3 separate regions of the Homo sapiens genome follow, and regions 2 and 3 are each linked to region 1. Evidence: fine-mapped expression QTL. A gene starts in region 1. Each other region holds a variant in brackets. All regions are shown on one strand. Distances are between the middles of the regions.

What was found. PIP is the estimated chance that this variant, and not a neighbour inherited with it, causes the effect.
Region 2: its variant is fine-mapped to the expression of TCP11L2 in fibroblasts (GTEx, PIP 0.98).
Region 3: its variant is fine-mapped to the expression of TCP11L2 in whole blood (TOPMed, PIP 0.97).

The regions. Positions count from the first base shown.
Region 1 is chr12:106,299,775-106,304,880 of GRCh38, reverse strand. TCP11L2 (t-complex 11 like 2) reads right to left here and starts at 2,148. Exons shown (of 10, transcript NM_152772.3): 1 at 1,940-2,148. RefSeq lists enhancers at 2,081-2,220, 2,231-2,310, 1,485-2,370 and a silencer at 2,391-2,510.
Region 2 is chr12:106,343,018-106,348,123 of GRCh38, reverse strand. TCP11L2 (t-complex 11 like 2) reads right to left here. Exons shown (of 10, transcript NM_152772.3): 10 at 1,121-1,838. The coding sequence ends at 1,594. Among named protein-coding and RNA genes, the nearest start is that of POLR3B, 12 kb to the left of the region's middle. The variant G/A (reference allele first, on the strand shown) is at 2,176.
Region 3 is chr12:106,533,991-106,539,096 of GRCh38, reverse strand. All of the region lies in intron 1 of LOC100287944 (a long non-coding RNA gene), which reads left to right. Among named protein-coding and RNA genes, the nearest start is that of RFX4, 46 kb to the left of the region's middle. RefSeq lists an enhancer at 2,955-3,454. The variant C/A (reference allele first, on the strand shown) is at 2,002.

The DNA of each region.
Region 1 (5,106 bases):
CTACAGTGACAGAAAATCCTCTAGGAGGGAGCCATTCTTTATGCACCGCAAAATCCCTAGTTAGACCCCACGTATTAGCAAAAAGGTTAACTGCTTACAGTCATAAACATTTTGGAGTGAAATATTCAGATTACCCAGCAGGGCCTTGAGGAATTGAACCCATCCAGTTAAGGTTAGCTCACGCAAAAAAGAAATTTCAAGAAACTTCTAGTGTGTACCATCCTTCAACACTAGATCGAGGTCAGCTGCAAGGACAAGCCTTCACATATGTGTAGTAAAGGGAAGGGAGTCAGAGGACTAAGTCTGGGCTCTAAAGAAAAAAATTGCAGATGATGTGAAAAATTTCCATCTTCTGCAAAATGCTGCTTTAGAATCAGTCTTAAATAGCAGCACTAAAGTTATTCATCCACAGCAAAGCAAAAACCATAGAGCAGAGGGATAGGGGCCCATACCATTCATCTAGACAATACTGGTCTTCATCAAGTTAGAACCAACAAAGAGCTAGATAAAAGCCAACAAGCCAGTCACTGTCCACAAAGCAGATGTTCACGTTACACGTGGCATTACAGCATCAGGGAGAAGGATTCCTGGCACTTTTCACATTTGAAAGCACTCCTCCCACACTTGCTGGTCTGTTTTGTTTTAATACCTGTGCTTCCCCCTCTGGGGCCCTCAACCTCTCACAAAATGGCATTGAAGCTGCTTCCACACATGACTGGGTATCTTCGGCCCTGGGCCTCTTCAAATCAGGCAACTTCCACTGGCTGTCAGGGTGATGCATGAAATCCCTAGAGAAGAGAGGAAAAGGACCACGGCAGGGAGCCTCCTCAAGTGGGAACCACTGAGATTAACTCATTATCCGTTGGCAGGTAAGAAGAGCAAAGTCCCTGACTGGGCTGGTGACCATGGGTGCTGAGACACCCACTGGGGACAAGGACAACTTGTCCAGTTTCTTCACAGTTAAGGTAGCAGGACAACCATCTAAGATTTCCCAAACTTAAGTCGTTTGAGTGCCACTCTTCATGACTATTTCTACGTCTCCCTCCTTACCTTTACTATAATTTAGTAACCGCGTCTCTATCTTGACTAGATTTTTGCATTTAAATATATTTATTTTAAAAGGAAACTCTATCATTGTGAAACTGCTTACTTAATGGAACAGATTTTCTTAATAGTAACGAAAACAAGTAACTATGTTCATCCATATGCCACCTCAAATCATTGCTATTACCCCCAGTGGTGCCACCTACAGTAGCAGCTTTGGGAAGCACAAGCAACACCTGAGGGTTCAGCGTTCGAGCCCAGGCCCAATCGGCTTTTCTCCACCTCTTCCCCTTAACCAAAGGTCCCGGCAAGGGGACGCAGCAGCAGTCTGCACGACCTCACCCACGTCCTCTGGCCGCCCCTCCCCTCCAGCAGCACCAGGTTTCCTGTCAAAACAAACCCTTGGGGGAGGGGACGGCGGAGGCAGAGCTGAGTGCCGGGGAAACCACGGCAACAAATCCCAAACACACGCTGCCGGGCCCGCCCTGCCTCTACCCTGGCTCAGTTCCCTACTCCAGCCCGGCCGAGGAGTGTGGGGGAAGGGGGTGCCCTGGGCCCCTGATGGCGGGATGCCGCTGGTACCTGTCCAGCAGGATTTAAACAGCGGCGAAGCGGCCTCCGAGGCCCGAAGTCCGTGTCCACCCCGACACGCGGGGCGGCCACTCGGTGCCCCGCTCCCCGCTCCCACGCGGGACGGCAGTTCGAGGTCAAACAAGGGGACGCGGAGTGGGAAGACATGAACTAGGAGCCGAGCTTGATGGCCCCTGACCCCGCCTTCCCAGGATGGAGTTCCGAGATAGGGCAGGGGAGCCTTCGGGCTGCAGCGGTGTCCCCTCCGTTGGACCTGGCCGGTCACCTCCGAGCCGGCAACGCCTCCCCCGTGATGGATACGCACCGGGTCCAGCACGTAGACAAGAGGAGAACGGCGACGGAGTGACCCCGGGTCAGGGCTCTCTGGGCGTCCCCTCACCGAGCACAGCACAGTCACCTCGAAAACTCACCAGCCCAACAAACCCCCCCAGCCCCAGTGTCCCCCCCAACGCGGTATTTAAAGGGCCCTGAGGGACTCTAGGGAGGCAGCCACGGCGCGGCCATCACAAAACCGGATAGCGGGGGGACGACGGCGCGACGGGGCAAGGGGATCCAGGGCCCTTCAGTCTCCGAAAGCCGAGCGCTCACAGACTGAACCTATTAGAGAAACAGTCTTCGTCAGTTTGAACCAGAGAGGCCGAGAACAGCTCGGATGGGAGGGTGTTTCGGATGCGAGAGGGCACGGTTCCCCCGCGCGGCGAGTGGTGCGGTCCGGGCTGCCGGGGGCGGGGTGAGAAGTGTTTACGGAACTGAGGCCGCCGAGCCGACGGGAGCGCCCGGCGTTGGGGGCGGGGCCTGCCAGGGCACTGGGGGCGGGGCCGAGTGGGGGAGCGGGGGCTGAGCGGGGGCTGAGCGGGGGCTGAGCGGGGGCTGAGCGGGGGCTGAGCGGGGGCTGAGCGGGGGCTGAGCGGGGGCTGAGCGGGGGGAGCGGGGGCTGAGCGGGGCTCTGGGGAGGTGGGCGAAGCCGCGGGCCAAGCCTCCAGTGGAGTGCCGGACAGATCCCCTGGGCTTCCAGGCGCACTGGCGTGGACCACACTGCGAGCTCCCGGCCGCGCGTGGAACATTGAGTGCCCGCACACCCCTGTCTAGACGGGGCAATCGGAACTGGGTGCCCACCAACACACTGTCCACACTTACAGAGACAACCCAACCAACAACGCTGCTGGTGGGCTTTCCCACGCACGTCAGCCACTAACCGGGTCATCTCCAGTTGCGTCTACACCTCCACATAAACACGGGTCTAGATTTGCACCTGCACGGGACGATTAGCTCCTTGGAGTCACACCCATCCAGGCCCTCTGAAGACTTGGCGTGCGTGCAAAAGATAAAGCGTCTTACTTCCTCTAGGGTTCTTGGCAGCACCTATCTCCGGGAGAAGTTTCCACCTTGGTTAATGTAAATAACCAGTCCCAGGAGGGCTCTGTGCCGTCTGGCCTGCTGCTCAGCTCCTGCTGTGGGCGTGCTTGAGGGTGTAGAGAAACAAGCTTCCCCCAACTGTTCACATCAAAACTATGCCTTCTGCCAGGTGTAAATCGGTGCTGTATTACTTGGGAAATAGTTTCATGCAGGAACTACTTACATGAAGTTTGTATAGACTAAAGTATTTCTGTTTAGTGCCGAAATTATGTCTGGATTGTGGAGGCAGATTGGCCACCACCGTTCAAAAACAACAACAACAAACAACAGGCAACATTTTAAAGCAGGGTAGAAAGTCAGTTGTTCAGTGGTTACAACACAGACTCCTCTATGGTTCCAGTCCTGGCTCTGACATTCACTATCCATGAGATCTTGGTCTCTGGGGATAACAATGATAGCTATTTCCTTGGGTTATTTTGAGGATAAAGTGAAATAAAGCATGTGAAGTGCTTAGCAGGGTGCACAGTAAGCACTCTAAGTATTAGTTATTGAAATTCTTTGGCAAACCACTGTGGCCAAACTTAGCTGGTGATCTGTATAAATTTGTATCTGTGCCTCCTTTTGCCACTTTCCTCTCTTCTCCTAAAATATACAACCTAATAATACAGGTTAAGAGATTAAATAGAAGGTGCTGTCCCCACCTGAGTTCTTCCCTACAAACATGCTCTTATTTGTGTCATTCGTTGGATAAGTAATCAGAATGACAGAAGCCTCCAATTTCAATTCCTGCCAAATGACAACCACCACACAACTGCCATCACCACCCTAAAAACTCCACAATAGAAAGATGAACACCCAAATCCCCCAAACTTCTGGTAATTCTGTGACAATGACACATGGCAACATTACTTCCTTTGTTAGCTTTGTAAGGATTTAAGTATTGTTTTGAGCTATGACATAAGTTGGAGCAGGTGACCATGAGTCAGGGTAGTTGTCCTTTATACTGGAGTGACCAGCTGCCTGATCCTAGGCATGACACTTCTTTTAAAGTTCAGATATGTAGCTCTCAAAGCCACCAGGAAAGCAGCTTTTGTCAAAGCAAGTTCAACTGTAACATCAGAGAACCAAGCTGAGATAAGAAAAGATGCTGGAAATACTATCTTCTGTTACTTTAATGTTAAATAACTTGCTATCTGAAAACCCTTCTGTGAATTACCTGACCAACTGCCCTTGGCCTGACTTGTGTATAAAAGCACTTTGGGCCAGGCACGGTGGCTCATGCCTGTAATCCAAGCACTTTGGGAGGCCGAGGCAGGTGGATCACAAGGTCAGGAGATCGAGACCATCCTGGCTAACACGGTGAAACCCCGTCTCTACTAAAAATACAAAAAAATTAGCTGGGCGTGGTGGCACGCACCTGTAATCCCAGCTACTCTGGAAGCTGAGGCAGGAGAATCGCTTGAACCTGGGAGGTGGAGGTTGCAGTGAGCCGAGATCACGCCACTTTACTCCGGCCTGGGCGACAGAGCGAGACTCCATCTCAAAACAAAACAAAACAAAAACAACACTTTGAAAAAATGGAGTGCTGTAAAATATAAGGCAGTTCCCTCAAAAATGAGCCTTGTATCACATTGTTGCTCAGAGGGCTCAGACAGTCATAACACAAAATCTTCCCTGCTCAGGTTATGTTTATGGCTTTCTGAGGAAAAAAAAAAAACAACAAAATCTGAAAAGGCAACCTCTTTAGAAGTAAAATAATTAGCATTTTATTTGAAGAAGACATATTATTACACCTAGTTTTTCTAACTTACCTTTTTGAACCACTTAGAGAACTCACAGTAATACAGTTTTTTTTTCTCCCTGTAAATTACACGGTAGACTAAATGTGGTCTATCACTCTTGGCAAAAGACTAAGGGCAGATCAAAATTTTTGTTCGATGAAGAAATAGAAATACTCATTTTCTTTTTACACATCTGAAATCTGAGTTTTAAATTATAATAAATCATTGACAAAAATCTAAAAATGTAATTACAGTTGGATTTGCAACCTCTCAGCCTTATAACTTTTCTAGTGGAGTTGCATATTGTACTGATTTAATGTAATGCAAATTTAGC
Region 2 (5,106 bases), 43 kb before region 1:
GGAGTTTGAGACCAGCCTCACCAATGTGGTGAAACCCTGTCTCTAGTAAAAATACAAAAATTAGCTGGGCATGGTGGTGCATGCCTGTAATCCCAGCTACTCGGAAGGCTGAGGCAGGAGAATCACTTGAATCCGGGAGGCAGAGGTTGCAGTGAGCCGAGATTGTGCCACAGCACTCCAGCCTGGGCAATAGAGTGAGACTCCATCTCAAAGAAAAAAAAAAAAAAAAAGAATGGCAAATGAGGCCGGGCATGGTGGCTCACGCCTGTAATCCCAGCACTTGAGGAGTCCGTGGTGGGTGGATCACGAGGTCAGGAGTTCAAGACAAGCCTGGCCAACATGATGAAACCCTGTCTCTACTAAAAATACAAAAATTAGCTGGGCGTGGTGGCGGGCGCCTGTAGTCCCAGCTACTCAGGAGGCTGAGGCAGGAGAATTGCTTGAACCCAGGAGGCAGAGGTTGCAGTGAGCTGAGATCACGCCACTGCACTCCAGCCTGGGCGACAGAGTGAGACTGCGTCTCAAAAAAAAAAAAAAAAAAAAAAAAAGGCAAATGATAATGATCCTTAGGAGGGCATCTTGGTCATAACACGGTAAAGCTTTCATCAGCACAAAAGACATCTGGTAGTTAAGTTATATGGGTAAGAAATCCAAAGTTTAACTGTTTCTTTTTCAGATATGAACTTCATGGAGAATGGGATCTCATTTTATCATTGACTCCCTTTCTTCTTCTTACAAGTAAACCAAATGAGCCCTGCCTCACATAAAAATATTAAACTCTTATATAAACCTTATCAATGGCCTGAGAACTGCAAGGACATTCACTAAGAGATTTGTGCAAAAATTGTTTTTCTTGGAGAGCAGACTAAATTGTAAGAAGAAACAAACTTCTAGAATAATTTGAGAAGGGAGTTGCTTCTATTTTCACTAAACAAACAAGGGAGGTTTTATCTGAAGTTTGTATATAGCATGAAAATGTACTTAATACATTAAAATTCTAAATAAATACTGACCATTGGTATTATAAAGTGTGATTTGGTACATTTGTGGAATTTGAGGACTTACTTTGAAAGTTTCTATTAACACATTAATAAAATGTAATTGTACATTTCAAATACAATTGTGTTTACTTCACATCATTTATTCAGAACATCAGTTCCCTCAGTTATTGTCACAACCTTCAACCCTTTAAGGAGTTGTACCAAAATTAAAAACCATTAGGTTTGATAATAACAAGTGAGAAAAACAACTCCTTAGGGGTTAAATGTCATAAGCCAAATATAAATGGTTAAGAAAACATTTACAAGTATTATATAGGTAATATAATTAATTACAAATTGTTTTCTGTTCATTACAAATATTTGTTTTAAACTTGAAAATGATGCACAAATAGGGTCTATGTGATGTTTACGTCTTCTGAGGGTCTATGTGATGTGTGTGTCTTCTGTAATGCTAATATTACCCATTACACAGATTTGGGCTAATACTGCACCACAGTACTGAGAATGTGCTGGATCTCTAATGCCATCAATGGAAGTGGACTGGATACCAAAGTACTGGATTTCCAATCTCTCGTCCAATGTCAGTTCTTCTTTAGTTAGTAGGAGGTGAAGCATCTACCTTCCCCATGGCTTCCTCATTGAAGAGCAGCTTTCGAAGTATATTTGCATAAAATGGTCCATACACTTGTTTGTTGAGATTCACAATGTTTGCATATTGAGAGCCTAGGGCTTCTAGCTCCTGCTGAATGACAGCTAGGCCTCCTGGCATAGGAGGCATGCATTTTTGAGGGCTTGGAAGACAAAGTAGCCTTCTCATGTAAAGCTTAATTCGTTTATCTGAAGGGGAAAAAAAGATACTTTTATCTGTCCATTATTAAAGTACATAATTTTTAAAAACAAGAACAAGTAATTGTAGTAGGTTGACTGCAATAATGTTCCCAATTCTTTACCCCTCCCTGCACCCATCCCCTTTCCAAGGTAGCTTTGCAGTTCCTCCTATCAAAGCTGGAGTGTGTTTTTCCCATCCTTTCCATCTGGGCTGGCCCTGTGACTTACTTTGGCCAATACAGAATGCGGTGGAAATGCCAGAGTACCAGTTTCATGCCTTGGCCTCAAGAGGCCACTCTTGTTCATGTCCACCGTCTACCTACTACCGCCATGAGAATAGGCCTGG[G/A]CTTGCTGGAGGATGAGAGACCAAGGAGAGGGAAACCCAGCTGTTCCATCTGAGGCCATCCTAGACCAACCCATAGCCAACCAGCATTCAAACACCTGAGAAAGTCCAGCCAGGATCAGCAAAGCTTCCATCCTGAGTCACAGCTGAACCACAAATACATTAGTGAGTTCAGCAAGACCAAAAGAGCCACCCGGTCGCCTCACAGACTGGTGAGTAATAATAAATGCTTATTTTTTTTAAGCTCAGGAGTTTTGTGGTATTTTGTTATGCAGCAATAGCTGACTGATAAAAAAAAAAAGGCAGAGCCCTATTTGGGGGGAATCTTCTACAAAAGTTAATCCTAAATGTTCATGATTATAATTACATACACTAAAGCTGAGTTTGTAAACTGGCATTGCCAGTCTGGCCCATGCAGTGTCTTTTTTAAAAACAGAAGCCATTTAAAATCAGGAGATTTCACATAGAAATCCATATTTCTGCTTTCTCTTGAAAAATCTAGAGATCTGGCAAACTTGGGGGCCCAAATTACCACATGGCAAGGGGGACCACACATCTAGGTTTCCCCAGGACAGTCAAAATTTACACCTGTTGTCCTGGCATAATTTTAAAAAGAGACTCTCAAAAGTACCCTGGTTGAACAATAAATTACATGGTGCCAGGCGTAGTGGCTCACACCTGTAATCCCAGCACTTTGGGAGGCCGAGGTGGGAGACTGATTGAGCCTAGGAGTTCGAGACCAGCCTGGGCAATATAGTGAAACTTCATCTCTACAAAAAAAATTTAAAAATTAGCCAGGCATGATGGTGTGTGCCTGTAGTCCCAGCTACTTAGGAGGCTGAGTTGAGAGGACTGCCTGAGCTCATGAGGCTTCAGTGAGCTGTGATCATGCCACCACACTCCAGCCTGGGCAACAGAGGGAGACTCCATCTCAAACATAATTAATTAATACTAAATAAGTTACAGGGTACTTCACACATGGCCAAGAATCAGGAGACACTGAGGAAGGGACATCCCAACCAGCACACCATTGTGCCACCTTCCCTGCCCTTCCTGCATCACTGCCTCAATGTATTTGACTTTGAGACGACTACACAAAAGCATAGAAATGCATATGGAAATCAGGCTGCAATAGTATAGGACAACTATTAATAATACTGGACAGAAAAGACCTGCTATAGCTCAGGCTGCTCCAAGGGCTTTCTCTGGCTTTGGGAACAGAAACCTCACCAATAAGAAGGTTTACTAAGGAAAATATGCCACATTGAATATAGACAACTATGATACTACTAAAATTCTTATCACCAAAGAATGCTCACAAAAATCATACATTCCAGCTAGGTCTGACCTAGAACTTGTTTCCAATGTCTATGTCTTAGAATTCTTTCCTTTTACTAGAATGCCCTTCAATCTCATCTCATTTCATCTCATCTCTGCCCAGAATCAGAGGCATCCTTCAATGTCGTGCCAAAAGTTACCTCCTTTCTGTGACTTTCCTTAGCATCTGTTACCAGACTATCGTGACATATGATTGCCAGTTGAGAAGGTGTCTCTCTCCCTTCTTGGACAGTGGACTCTCTGAGCGTGAGGTTTATATCTTTTTTATCTTTATATTCTTGGTCTGTCATGTGACAGACACATTGTAAATGCTGACTGAACTTAAGTGAGAATGGACTGAAAAGAGTCTATAAAGATAAATAACGAACTGAAAACCGTGGCAGCCAGGGGAAAATGGGGACTGAAGAAGGCAAACAAAGGTGACTTAAGCCTTATCTGTATTTTTTTTCTTTTTTTATATATAGACAGGGTCTCCATCTGTTGCCCAGGAGAGTCTCAAACTCCTGGCCTCAAGCCATCCTCCTGCTTTGGCCTCCCAAAGTGCTGGGATGACAGGCATGAGCCACCGTGCCTGGCCTTTGTCTGTAATTTTTCTACAAGGAGAAATTATTGTATCACCTGTGCAACTGAAATTACTTGTTAAAAGTGTAGATGGCAGGCCAGGCACAGTGGCTTAGGCCTGTAATCCCAGCACTTTGGGAGGCCAAGGTGGGCGGATCACGAGGTCAGGAGTTTGAGACCAGCCTGGCCAATATGGTGGAACCCCGTCTCTACTAAGAATACAAAAAAAATAGCTGGGCTTGGTGGTCCGCACCTGTAGTCCCAGCTACTAGGGAGGCTGGGGCAGAAGTATTCTTCTTGAACCCAGGAGGCAGAGGTTGCAGTGAGCCAAGATCACACCACTGCACTCCAGACTGGGCGACAGAGCAAGACTCCATCTCAAAAAAAAAAAAAGTAGACGTAGGCATGCAAATAATTTACACAGCAGGTAATCCATAATTTTTACTTAGTATGTATTCGACAGAAAAATCCCTTTCTAATATCTTTTCAAAAGGTTAAGAATTGTAATGGGAATTGGGGATTATGATCCCTTCAGTAAATAAATAGCGCATCAACTGAGAACAAAAGAAAGCATACTGTGGGTACCCTTAGCAGAGGAAAACCATGGCCAACACTGATCAAGCCCTTCTCAGGTTCCAGGAATCTCTCTGTTTAATTTATTCTAACTCCTCTGCAGGCATACATTTAGAGTTAACTGTGTACTACTTTCCCTTTAGACTAGTTGCCTGACCTTCAGAGGCCCAGGTCTATATCATCACAGATATGATCCAAACGCTTTCCCATAAGAAGGTTTAAAAATGAAACCCTTTCAAAATCCTTATTATGTCAGCAAGTGGTTCTGCCTCTTTTGCCTCTTTTGCAGATGAGTCTGTTTTTAGGCAAAGGCTAAAGTGACCGGAGTGTTTGTAAAGTTAGGAGCAGCCACACGGAGTCCCTGCCAAAGGCGTGTCCTTGGCTTCCAGAGTCGAAGAAGAGACGTTCAAGTGAGTCACTTAAGTTGCTAGGGCAACAGTACTTTGAATGAGATTAAAAATG
Region 3 (5,106 bases), 230 kb before region 1:
TTCTCTTCATACCTTTAAATATCCTTTATATGGCTTTATACAGCTTTATACCCTTAAATGTCCTTTTACATCTAATTATTTGAATTACAGGTTTAAAAACTCCTTTGAACTCACATTATAAAATAATGTCATTTTTTCTCTAATCCTCTTTAAAAGTCAACCTCACTAGGGAACAATTTATACACAAGAAAATGCACACATTTTAACTGTATAGATGAATGAATCTTGATAAAGATATACATCTGTATAATCACTACCATAATAAAAATATTTTCATTATCCTAAAAAGTTCCTTTTTGCCCCTTCTCAATCAATTGCCCCTGCTCCCAGCCTCACACCACCACTGATCTGCTTTTTATCACTATAGATTAGACATGTCTTTCCTAAAGTTTCATAAAAATTGAATCACATAATACTTACTCTTTTACGCCTGGTCTCTCAGTATAATGCTTTTATTATATTGATCTAGTTTGTTGCATATATATGTAGGTTTGTTCATTTTTTAATTCTAAGTAGTATTCCTTTTTATAAATATACCACAACTTGTTTAGCCATTTTTATCTATTGGGTGGCTACCAGTTTTGGGCTATTACGAGTAAAACTCATATGAATATTTTGGTACAAATCTTTGTGTGTACATATGCTTTCATATCTTTTGGATAAACACCTTGAAGTGAAATTGCTGGGTCATATGGTAATTGCATATATAACTTTATAGGAAACCATCAAACAGCTTTCCAAAGATGGATTTTTACACTCCCTTTTACACTCCCATCAGCAATGTATGAGAGTTCCAATGTCCCTATATCATCACCAACACCATCAATTGTAATTGTCATATTAAAACATTTTAGTTATTCTAATGGTTATATTGATACTTCATTGTGGTTTTTTAATTTTAACATTCAAAATTGTTTCATTTATTATTTTACTGCCATACATGATTAAATTTCAGTTTAAATTATTCACTTCCTGTAATTTTTAAAGATAAACCTTTTATTCTAGAACAGCTTAAATTTACAATACAATTACAAAGATCATACAAAGTTCATATATACCTAATACCCAGTCCCCCTTATTATTAATATCTAACATCAGTATGGTACACTTATTAATGAGCCAACATTGATACATTTATTATTAACTGAAGTCAATTCTTTATCCAGATTTCTTTAATATTTTCCTAATGACCTTTTTCTGTTCCAGAATCCCAGTCAAGGTAACACATTACATGTAGTAGTCATGCCTCCTCAGGGTCCTCTAGGCTTGCTCTTGCCTCTGCCACTCCAACAGCAAGAAACCATATGCCATATGATTGCCACCATATGCCATCATTCACTTAATCGCTCAACCACAGTGTGTAGCGGTATCAGAATTGTTAACCCACAACTCCCTGGGGAAAACTGTATCAACTAGATCAGTGGTCCCCAACCTTTTTGGCACCAGGGATCAGTTGTGTGGAAGACAATTTTTCCATAGATGGGAGTAGGGGGCTGGTTTCAGGATGATTCAAGAGCATTACATTTATCATTAGATTCTCATAAGGAGCATGCAACCTAGATCCCTCACATGTACACTTCACAATATGAGAATCTATGAAATTCTCTCCTACAAGAATCTAATGCTCCCACTGATCTGACAGGAGGTGGAGCTCAGGCAGTGACGTTCACCCACCGCTCACCTCCTGCTGTGTGGCACGGTTCCTAACAGGCCACAGACCAGTACCGGTCTGCAGACCAGGAGTTGGGAAGGACTGAACTAGGATAAATGCTTATATACAGTTTCTTGTGCCTTTAGCCTTACAAACTTGATTCACTTCCAAAGCTACTTAGGTCAGCACCTTTCCCTACCTCCTTTAATGACGCTGCATTATACATTTGTAATACAGGTAGGTTTTTTTTTTTGTTTTTTTGTTTTTTTTGTCGTATTCTACATTCCATCTTGGGATCCCTCAACCTCCCAATTGTTTTTTTTAAAACTTTACATCCATTAAGGTTTATT[C/A]TTTGGGCTACAAAGTCCTATGGGTTTTAAACAAATGCATAGTATGTATTTTCCACTACAGTATTATATGGAATAAATTTCTCCACCTGGGATGGAGGAAAAACCTCCCGTGCTTCACTTTTTCAACTTGTCTCCAAACCCCAGCAACCACTGATGTTTTTACCACTTCATTTTTACCAAAAATTGTTGCCTTTTCTAGACTCTTTCACTTAGCAATATATAATTAAGTTTCATCTATGTCTTTTTATGGCTTGATACATCATTTCTTTTTATTGTTGAATAATATTCCATTGCATGAAAGCATCTTAGTTTGAATGTCTATTCACCTATTGAAGGACATCTTGGTTGCTTCCATTTTTTGGCAATCACAAATACAGCTGCTATAAACATTCGCATGTAGAATTTTTGTGTGTGCATGTTTTCAAATCAGGCAAATACCTAGCAGCATGATTGCTGAATTATATGGTAAAACTATGTTTAGTTTTGTAAGAAACTGCAAAACTGTTTTTCAAAGTGGCTATACCATTTTGCATTACCACAGCAATGCATGAGAGCTCCTCTTGCTTTGCATCATCATCAGCAATTTGTATTGTCAGTTTTTTGGACTTTTTTCATTCTATAGATGTGTAGTGGCATCTCACTGTTAATTTTTAATTTCCTATTGGCAAATGATGTCAAGCATCTTTTCATATGCTTATTTGCCACCTGTATGTCTTATTTGCTGAGATGTCTGTTCAGATCTTTTGGCCAGTTTTAACTAGTTCACCTTCACTATATAACTTCATGGTAATGAACATACCTTATAACAGAGTAGAGATTGCAGCTCTGACTCGGACGGACAGAGCAGCGTGCTGAGGCTTGCATCATGAATTTTAGCTCCAGATCAACTGCAAGAACAAACCAGCAATCCCGAGAGGACCCACAGACCCTCTGAAAAAAGCGGACTGCTCCTGCAGGACCAGGGAGACACCACAAATACCGTGAGTGCCCCAACTGCAGAAGTGGGAAAGGGAGAGCCTCCTCTCCCGAACACACACCCCCACTGGAGAAACTGAAGGTCTGTTTGCAGGAGAAGTTTCCAACTGTACCTGGAGCTGAGTCAATTTAGAGAGCTGAGTGAAATACAGGGGTACAGGAAGCAGCAGAAAGGCCCTGGGAGCTTGCTGGATCCCCAAGCAGGCCATTCTTGCCTGGCACCACAGGGATCCGTCAGGAAGGCAGCAGCCAGAGGAGTGGAGTGCAAGGGGAAACACTACAGGGAGAAGGAAATCTCCAGCTAACTTTGTAGCAATTTGAACTGGGTGAGAAGCCTCCTGGCTAGAACTTGGGGGAGGGTATGAATCCGGTGTGCAGACTCCACAGGTGGGGGAAGAACCAAGCCCCTTTCTTTCACAGCTGGGAGGTGGGTAGCCTGGGGCAAGTTCTCAAGCCCGGCTCGCCCACCACCTGGAAACAGATTCAGGGCTGTTAGAGGGGCATGGTGGAAGTGAGACCGGCCCTTCAGTTTGCATGGGAGCTGGGTGAGGGCTGTGACTGCTGGCTTTCCCCCACTTCCCTGATAACCTGCATGACTCAGCAGAGGCAGCCATAATCCTCCTAGGTGCACAACTCCATTGACCTGGGCACCTCACCCCCATCCCCCATAGCAGCCATAGCACCTAACCCTGCCACCACCTGATGGTCCTTCCCTACCCACCCTGGTAGCTGAAGACAAAGGGCATATAATCTTGGGGGTTCTAGGGCCCTACCCTCTGCTGGTTCCTCCCCATACTACCACAGCTGATTCTCTGGAAAGTGCCACCTCCCAGCAGGATGCCAAGCAGCACAAAAACAGAGCATTAAACCACCAAAGCTAAGAACCCTTACAGAGTCCATTGCACCCCCCTGCCACCTCCACCAGAACAGGCACTGGTAACCACAGCTGAGAGACCCATAGATAGTTGTCATCACAGAAGTCTGTGCAGACAACCCCCAGTACCAGCCCAGAATTGGTTAGAATTGCTGGGTGGCTAAACCCAGAAGAGAGACAATAATCACTGCAGTTTGGCTCACAGGAAGCCACATCCACAGGAAAAGGGGGAGAGTACTACATCAAGGGAACACCCTGTAGGACAAAAGAATCTGAACAACAGCCTTCAACCCTAGACCTTCCCTCAAACAGAGCCTACCCAAATGAGAAGGAACCAGAAAACCAACTCTGGTAATATGACCCAACAGTACTCTTTAGCACTCCCCAAAAAATCACACTAGTTCACCAGCAATGGATCCAAACCAAGAAGAAATCCCTGATTTACCTGAAAAAGAATTCAGGAGGGTAGTTATTAGGCTAATCAGGGAGGCACCAGAGAAAGGTGAAGCCCAATGCAAGGAAATCCAAAAAAATGATACAAGAAGTGAAGGGAGAAATAATCAAGGAAATATATAGCTTAAAGAAAAAATAATTAAAATTTCAGGAAATATTGGACACATAGGAATGCAAAATGCTCTGGAAAGTCTCAGCAATAGAACTGAACAAGTAGAAGAAAGAAATTCAGAGCTTGAATACAACATCTTCGAATTAACCCAATCCAACAAAGACAAAGAAAAAAGAATAAGAAAATATGAACAAAGACTCTAAGAAGTCTGGGATTATGTTAAATGACCAAACCTAAGAATAATCTATGTTCCTAAGGAAGAAGAGAATTCTAAAAGCTTGGAAAACATATTTGGGAGAGTAATCAAGGAAAATTTCCAAAGCCTTGTTAGAGACCTAGACATCCGAATACAAGAAGCACAAAGAACACCCGGGAAATTCATCACAAAAAGATCATCACCTAGGCACATTGTCATCAGGTTATCCAAAGTTAAGACAAAGGAAAGAATCTTAAGAGCTGTCAGACAGAAGCACCAGGTAACCTATAAAGGAAAATCTATCAGATTAACAGCAGATTTCTCAGCAGAAACCCTACGAGCTAGAAAAGATTGGGCTCTATCTTCAGCCTCCTCAAACAAAACGATTATCAGCCAAGAATTTTGTATCCAGTGAAATTAAGCATCATATATGAAGGAAAAATACAGTCTTTTTCAGACAAACAAATGCTGAGAGAATTTGCCACTACCAAGCCA